3 separate regions of the Homo sapiens genome follow, and all the other regions are linked to region 1. Evidence: fine-mapped expression QTL. A gene starts in region 1. Each other region holds a variant in brackets. All regions are shown on one strand. Distances are from middle to middle.

Region 1 (2,760 bases):
TTGATTCCTGGGCTATGATGCCATTCAGGATTCCTTGCAAAGGCTCTGGAATTCCAGTATTCATAAAAGAAAATGCTCATTATAATCGGAGCGTAAGAGGTACTCCCAACGTGACAGCCTGTATGAAGTATTACAAAGCTTACAGTTAAGATCTGGGATAGAGGCTGAACACCAAATTCAAAAGAGGTAACCAAGGCACTAAGTGCCATAAAGGAGGAAAGGGGAAGAAAAAAAAATCCACTATTGCCACTCAGCCACAGAGAATTAAAGTGGAAACCAGGGGTGTGCATGGGGGAGGATGAGGGGTGAGAAGTGCGGGGGGTGTGGTGGAGGAACAAACAATACATTTGTCACCCCGTCCCACTTCCTATAGAGGATACAGGCAAAGCCTCCAGCCTCATTACCTCGGACACAGATGGTTATCGTTTATAGCAAAGGTGCACAAAAAGGCCTTCAGGTCTGAGCCCCTTAATTCCAGGGCTGTTAATGATTAAAGAGAACGATGGGGGTGGGGAGGGAAATGAGGGCGGAGGGAGCTGGGAGATTCACCCACCACCTCCCCCTAGGGCTCCTACCTCACAGCGCTCACCCAGGACAGAGGACCAGAGTCTGCACCCCCTCCAGGGCAGCTCCAACCCCATATCCCCAGGCCCTGGGTTGAGGGGTGCTGGCGGTGGGGAGGCAGGGACAGTAGGTAAGTTTTCTGAGCCCTGCGGCTGACACGCCACAGGCTCCCCTCACAGCCTCTTCTTTCAGAGGTACCACTCCAGACAACGCGCTGACTTCCACTCCTCCCTTTCCACCCCCCTTTCTCGAAGGTACCCAACCCCCGCCCCTTCATCTCTCAATGCCCCCCCGCCTTTTCCTCAACTCCCCCCCTCCCCAAAACTCACAGCTGCTCCAGAGGTTCCTCCAGTCAAACCCTTTCTGGAAACGACGGCGGCCCGGCGGGTCCAAACCACCTACCATCCCCGCTCGCGTTTCCAGGCTCCCTACCCCCGCCGCCGCCGCCTCTTCTTCCACCACTGCCACCGCCTCCTCTTCATCTGCGGCCCACCGGCGGCGGCCGCCCCGAAGCCCCGCCCCCTCCATCGCCTCCTGCATCATCACTTCCGGTAACCCCGCCGGCCGCCAGCTCCAGGAGGGAGAATGGGAGAGGGGCAAGGAGGGAACGAGTGGAAGATTGCGTCACGACGCACATAAAGACGTACGAAGCCGTCGCCAAGTAAGGGCAAAGACCTAGCAACCCGGAGGGAGCTGGGCTGGACCATTTTTTTTTCTTGTTTTACGGGAATGGAGCGGGGAGGATAATGAAAGCGTAAAGGAAAAATAGGGGGAGGAGGAGCTCAGCTTATTGTTGGATGCGGCGGGAGATGGGTAGAGTCAGTCAGTCGAGACTCCCCCAGACCTGGAACTGGTGCTCCCACAGAGGTGGGCCCGGTGGTTTGGTCCGGCCTGGCCTACTGGACCAGCCTGTGCTCGGTCGGCCACGGCTCTGCTGGGCTCCTGGCGCCGCCTCCTCCCAGCCCGCCGCGGGCTGCGCGCTTCTGTGGGTGGGGGAAGGCAGGACTGACGCAGAGTGAGTGTAGGGGATGGAGGCGCCGACTCCAGGCGCGGGAGACTGGCGGGGAAGGGGTTGGCTCCCCACGGGCAGGGATGGTTTGGAGGTTGGGCTGCGGCGTTGCCGGGAGACGGGCCTGTGTGACCCCAGCTTCGCGGGGGCGGCTCGGTGTCATCGCCACCGGCCTCGGGGACCTGCCTCACGGAAGTGGCTCGCGCGTCCAAGAGGGGAGGCCTGGTGTGGGGACGCTCAGGTGCCGGCGTGGGGCCCCCTCGGAGGCTGTGAATCTTTTGGACCCCCGAATGTAAATGGGAGATGGTAGGGGCCGGTCCGGGGGCGAGAGGTGTCTGGCTGGGGAACGTTGACCCACACCAGGTCCCGTACAGGAACGGAGACTCCCTAGGACCGTGAGAGCCAGCTTCGTAATTCTCTTGCTCTTCAAACCTGAGAGTAGGGTGTTGCTCCGTTACCTTCCATTCGTGTGCAGGAGAGAGTTAAGTAAATCAATAAAGAAGGTATCAGCAAGTGAGAAATGCCCCCCAAAGACCGGATGAGGTGACAGAAGATGGGGGGAGGGCCCCTCGAAATCGGGTAAGGTCGTTCAAAGGAGGCCACGGTTTTGCGGGGATCCGAGACAATGGGTTTTCTGGGTGGAGAGAAGAGCCAATGAGAAGGACTTTTAGGTTGGAAACAGCCAGAAGGCCATGTGGCTGAAGCAAACAGAGCCAGGGCCGGAGTGCCCTGTGATGTAGTTGGGGAAGTGGCATGACTGTAGCAGCGCCTTTTAGCCCAAGGCAGGGGTTTGGCTAATGTGTACCTTAAGGGTTTTAAGAAGGGAAGTGACCTGACCTGATTTACATTTTTAAAAATCCGCTCTGCCTGCTGGATAGAGAAGGGTGGAAGTAGTTAGACCTGTTAGGAGACTGTTGCACTGTAAGACAAAGGAGAGGTGAAGATAGTGTTGAAAGGGCCGGCCGGGCGCGGTGGCTCACGCCTATAAACCCAGTACTTTGGGAGGCCTAGGCGGGCGGATCACGAGGTCAGGAGATCGAGATCATCCTGGCCAACATGGTGAAACCCCATCTCTACTAAAAATACAAAAATCAGCTGGGCGTAGTGGCACGCGCCTGTAATCTCTGCTACTCAGGAGAATCGCTTGAACCCGGGAGGTGGAGGTTGCAGTGAGCCAAGATCGCGCC
Region 2 (2,760 bases), 26 kb after region 1:
AATAACGTAGGGAACAAATATGATGCTGTATCAGTGGAGTAATAGTATATGTATATATATAAAATTTTTTTTTTTGAAACGGAGTTTTGCTCACATTGCCCAGGCTGGAATGCAATGGTGCAATCTCAGCTCACCGCAACCTCTGCCTCTTGGGTTCAAGCAATTCTCCTGCCTCAGCCGCTCGAGTAGCTGGGATTACAGGCATGTGCCACCATGCCTGGCTAATTTCGTATTTTTAGTAGAGACGGGGTTTCTCCATGTTGGTCAGGCTGGTCTTGAACTCCTGACCTCAGGTGATCCGCCCGCCTCAGCCTCCCAAAGTGCTGGGATTACAGGCGTGAGCCACCACGCCAGGCCTCAGTGTGTGCATATTTAACACAAATGCAACTAGTACACTTTGTGCTGCTATAATGGAATATCTAACACTAGGTACTTTATGAAAAACAGAGATTTATGTCTTAACAGTGCTGGAGGCCAGGAACTACAAGATTGAGGAGTCTGCACCTGGTGAGGGCCTTCTTGCTGTGTCGTTATAAGGCAGAAGGCATCACATGGTGAGAGAGAGTGAGAGAGGGCCAAACTCACTTTTATAACAAACCCAGTCTCGTGATAATGAACTCACACCTGCCATTATGACATTCATTCATGAGGGCAGAGCTCTCATGATCTAATCCCCTCTTAAAAGCCCTACTTCTCAACACTGTTGCAATGGTGATTAAGTTTCCAACACATGAACTTCAGACGACACATTTAAATCATAGCATTCTATCCCTGGCCCCCAAAACTCATGTCATTCTCACATGCAAAATACATTCTATCCCAGTAGCCCAGAAGTTTCAACTTGTTTCAGTGTCAACTCAAAAGTCCAAATTCCAGACTGATCTAAATCAGATATGGGTGAGGCTCAAGGCACAATTCATCCTGAGGTAAATTTCCCTCCAGCTGTGAGCCTGTTTTATCTACTACCAGGATACAATTGCAGGACAGGCATCAAATAGGCATTCCCATTCCAAAAGGAAGAAATAGGCAAGAAGAAAGGGGTAACTTCCCAAGTGAGTGTAAAACCCAAGATAGAAAACAATATCAAATCTTAAGATAGGCCAGACATGGTGGCTCACGCCTGTAATCC[C/T]AGCACTTGGGGAGGCCGAGGCAGGTGGATCACGAGGTCAAGAGATCAAGACCATCCTGGCCAACATGATGAAACCCTGTCTTTACTAAAAATACAAAAAATAGCTGGGTGTGGTGGCACACACCTGTAATCCCAGCTACTCGGGAGGCTGAGTCAGGAGAATTGCTTGAACCCAGGAGGTGGAGGTTGCAGTGAGCCAAGATCACGCCACTGCACTCCAGCCTGGCAACACAGCGAGACTCCATCTCAAAAAAAAAACAACAAAAAAAAAAACTGAAGATATCAGAATACTCATCTTTGACTGCATGTCCTAAATCCTGGGCACACTGGGGTAGGAAATTGGCCCCCCAAGGCCTCAGGCAGCTGGACTCGGTCTATGCAGCATCTCTCATGGGTTGGAATCTCATGCCTGCAGCTATCTCAGGCTGGAGTTACACACTGGCGGCCTTACAGTTTGGGGCCTCAAGAACTGCCCCACTCTCATGGCTCCACTAGCCATTGCCCTAGTGGGGACTCTGAAATGGCCCTGCCCCTGTGACAAATGTCTTCCTGAGTCCCCAGACTGTCTGCAACATCCTTTGAGATGGAGGTGGAGCCTGCCAAGGCACCACAGCACTTGTTTTCTGTGCACCTGTAGAATTAGCATCACATGGATGCTGCCAAGGTTCACGGCTTGTACTTTTACAAAAATTATCTTTTTAATTGACACATTGTATCTAAACAGAAATGGGACAAATTGTACATTATAATTGTATATATTTATAGGGTGCAATTTGATGTTTCAATACATATATATATATATATATAATGATACTGATCTACAGCTTGTACTTTCTGGAGTGGCAGGACCCATGTGGGCCCATTTGAGCCATGGCTGGGGCAGCTGAGCTTGGAATTTATCTGCACCTCTCTGGAAACCTTGCCCTCAAGGTCCTAGCTTGCCTCAAAGATCTCTGAAATGCCTTTGGGGTTATTTTCCCATTGTCTTGATGAATAAACCCTGGCTTCCTTCTACTCATATTAATCTCTTTTAAAAGGGCTGCTTGACCAAACCCTTAATTTTCTCTACTGAACATGCTTTTTAAAAATTCTTTAAATCCAGGCACAGTGGCTCATGCCTGTAATCCCAGCACTTTGGGAGGCCGAGGTGGGTGGATCACCTGAGATCAGGAGTTCGAGATCAGGCCAACACGGCAAAACCCCGTTTCTACTAAAAATACAAAAATTAGCTGGGCGTGGTGGCGGGTGCCTGTAATCCCAGATACTTGGGAGGCTGAGGCAGGAGAATCGCTTGAACCCAGGAGGCAGAGGTTGCAGTGAGCAGAGATCATGCCACTGCATTCCAGCCTGGGCAACAGGCTGAGAATTTTCCAAATCTTATTCTGCTTCCTTTTTCATCACACATTCCATCTTTAAGTCATTTCTTTCTTCTCTCATTTTACTATAAGCCACCAAAAGAAGCCATTCAAAGCCTTGAATGCTTTGCTGCTTAGATATTTTTTTTTTTTTTGCCAGATATGTTCATCACTCTTAAGTTCTGCCTTCCACAAAGTCCTAGGACATAGACATGGTTCCACCAAGTTATTAGCAACTGTATAACAAAGATGGACTTTACTCCAGTTTCTAATACC
Region 3 (2,760 bases), 20 kb after region 1:
ATCATTTATAATAGCAAAAAATTGGAAATAACTTAATTATCCATGGGTAGGAGATTGGTGAAATTATAATAAAGCCTTCTGTTGGAATTTTATATAGCTGTTAAAAAGAAGGGAGCAGCTCTATAGATAGAATATAGAAGGAACCTCAAGTTATGTTCATGAAAAAGCAAGGTTCAGAACAAAGGGAGCTATTGTTTGTGTGAGAAAAATAATCAGCTTCTACATACATGTGCATTTTCACATATACATAGAATACCCCTGCAAGAACACACAAGAAACTGCTAATTGTTGTCTCCGAGATGAGGAACTGGAATAGAGGAGTAAGAGGGAAACGTAGTTCTTATGTTACATCCTTTTGTATTATTTGAATTATTTTTACCTACTTTAACGATTTTAAAAGTTTATGGTAAGCTTTAATATTAAATTGCTTTTGATTTTCCAAATTAGTAACATTTCATTTACTGGCTAGTGAACTAAAAAAGTTTGAGAAAATGTATACCTATACTCTATGTACCATTAGAAAGATACTATCAGCCTCATTTCTTTCTCCCTTTTAATAGCTCACGGACACAGACCTAATTAAACAGTGTATAGATGAATGCACAGCCAGGATTGAAATTGGACTGCATTACAAGATTCCTTACCCAAGGCCAGTAAGTGTGACTCCGGTTAACAAGTGCTGGGTACTTACCCTCATCAACCTGGTTATTTCCAAGAATGTGTAACAAGAGGGCGAGTGCTTGCTGAGAAGCCCAGAGCTGCTGTGGGAGGCATGTTGGAAATAAGCTATCATTGCATGCTGCCAGCCCATCACAACAAAGTAAAATGTCAATGAATGCATGACGTATCCTGCTTACATAGCTTTCCACGTATGGAAGGGAAAACCAGCTCACACTGTAGAGCTTTTTCTCTTTTCACTTTCATCTTTTTTATGGAAATGTGTTTAATTATAAAAGGCAGGTTTGTTGTTACTAAAAGAATAAAGTTCAAACATGAAAGGAATGCATAAAGTAGAAAGTAAAAATGGTCAAAAATTCTCATCCAGGCTAGGCACTGCGGCTCATGCCTATAATCCTAGCACTTTGGGAGGCCAAGGCAGGAGGATCACTTGAGGTTAGGAGTTTGAGACCAGCCTGGGCAACACAGTGAGACCCCATTGCTATACAAAATTTAAAAATTAGCCAGGCATAGTGACACACTCCTGTATTCCCAGCTACTTGGGGAACTGAGGTGGGAGAATTGCTTCAGCCCAGGAGGTTGAGGCAGCAGTGACCCATGATCACACCACTGCGCTCCAGCCTGGGTGACAGAGTGAGACCCTGTCTCAAAAAATAAATAAAACTTAAATTTATATATATAAATTTAAAATAAAAAAATTA[T/TATAA]ATAAACTTAATACATTCAGAAAGTTAAGAAACAAAATAAATTTCAAATTTATATGAATTTAAAATAATAAATGTATATAAATTTATGTTTTCTTAAATTCTTTCATACCATAAATTTAAAACAATAATTTAATTTAAAAGAAGTTTTATTTATTTATTTATTTGTGGAGACTGAGTCTTCGCTTCATCACCCAAGCTAGGTACAGTGGTACAGTCATGGCCCACTGCAGCCTTGACCTCCCAGGCTAAAGTGATTCTCCCACCTCACTTCCCCAAGTAGCTGGGACTACAAGCATGTGCCACCACGCCCAGCTAATGTTTTAATTTTTTGTAGAGATGGAGGTCTCACTGTGTTGCCCAGGCTGGTCTTGAACTCCTGGGCTCAAGCAATCCTCCCACCTCAGCCTCCCAAAGCTCTGGGATAACAGGCATGAGCCACCGTGCCTGGCCAGAAATCTTTTTTGTTTGTTCGTTTTTTTGGAGACAGAGTCTTACTCTGTCGCCCAGGCTGGAGTGCAGCATGATTTCTGCTCACTACAACCTCTGCCTTCCCAGTTCAAGTGATTCTCATTCCTCAACCTCTCGAATAGGTGGAACTACAGTCGTGCACCACCACACCCAGCTAATTTTTTGTATTTTAATAGAAACAGGGTTTCACCATGTTGCCCAGGCTGGTCTTGAACTCCTGAGCTTAGGCAATCTGCCCACCGTGGCCTCCAAAAGTGCTAGGATGACAGGCGTAAGCCACTGCGCCCAGCCCAAATTTCTTAAAAAAAAAAAAAAAAAAAAAAAATTTCTCATTGTGCAGAGGGTGAACACTTTAACTGTTAAATGGAAAATTGCCAATATTCAACTCTTTTAGCTACAAAAACAGCAATTTTATATTGTAGTGGCTCAACCTAATTAGTTTGGTAGTATACCCTTTTAGTCTTTTTTTCTGTATTCATGTACCTACATTTTCTTTACATATGTAGGATTCTGGATATAATGTTATACTGCGTACTTATTTTACTTCATGTCTTCTGCACATCTTTGTATGTAGCTCTCCCTCAATCTTTTTTTTTTTTTGAGACAGAGCCTCACTCTGTCACCCAGTCTGGAGTGCAGTGACGCAATCTTGGCTCACTGCAGCCTCCTGGGTTCAAGGGATTCACCTGCCTCAGCCTCCTGAGTAGCTGGGATTACAGATTACAGGTACACCACCACACCCACCTAATTTTTGTATTTTTAGTAGTAACAGGGTTTCACCATGTTGGCCAGGCTGGTCTCGAACTCCTGGCCTCAAGTGATCCGCCTGCCTTGGCCTCCTAAAGTGCTGGGATTATAGGTATGAGCCACCACGCCCAGCCCAATCTTTTTTAAATGATTGCATTGTATGCTA

Alleles and levels. Positions count from the first base shown, and alleles are read on the strand shown. Sizes are in standard deviations (SD) of each study's normalised expression. Not every link is listed here.
For the expression in monocytes of the gene that starts at base 1,461 in region 1, T is the high allele of the variant in region 3 and TATAA is the other (moderate effect, 0.64 SD a copy in Fairfax 2014).

The links. PIP is the estimated chance that this variant, and not a neighbour inherited with it, causes the effect. A credible set is the group of variants that fine-mapping cannot tell apart.
Region 2: its variant is the best candidate, but not a certain one, in a credible set for the expression of LYRM1 in whole blood (TOPMed, PIP 0.83).
Region 3: its variant is the best candidate, but not a certain one, in a credible set for the expression of LYRM1 in monocytes (Fairfax 2014, PIP 0.53).

What each region holds. Positions count from the first base shown.
Region 1 is chr16:20,899,311-20,902,070 of GRCh38, forward strand. LYRM1 (LYR motif containing 1) reads left to right here and starts at 1,461. Exons shown (of 4, transcript NM_001128302.3): 1 at 1,461-1,579. DCUN1D3 (defective in cullin neddylation 1 domain containing 3) reads right to left here and starts at 1,048. Exons shown (of 3, transcript NM_173475.4): 1 at 894-1,048. RefSeq lists enhancers at 608-657, 867-1,652, 1,653-2,438.
Region 2 is chr16:20,925,133-20,927,892 of GRCh38, forward strand. No RefSeq gene overlaps it. Among named protein-coding and RNA genes, the nearest start is that of LYRM1, 26 kb to the left of the region's middle. The variant C/T (reference allele first, on the strand shown) is at 1,130.
Region 3 is chr16:20,919,562-20,922,321 of GRCh38, forward strand. LYRM1 (LYR motif containing 1) reads left to right here. Exons shown (of 4, transcript NM_001128302.3): 3 at 561-653. Among named protein-coding and RNA genes, the nearest start is that of LYRM1, 20 kb to the left of the region's middle. The variant T/TATAA (reference allele first, on the strand shown) is at 1,380.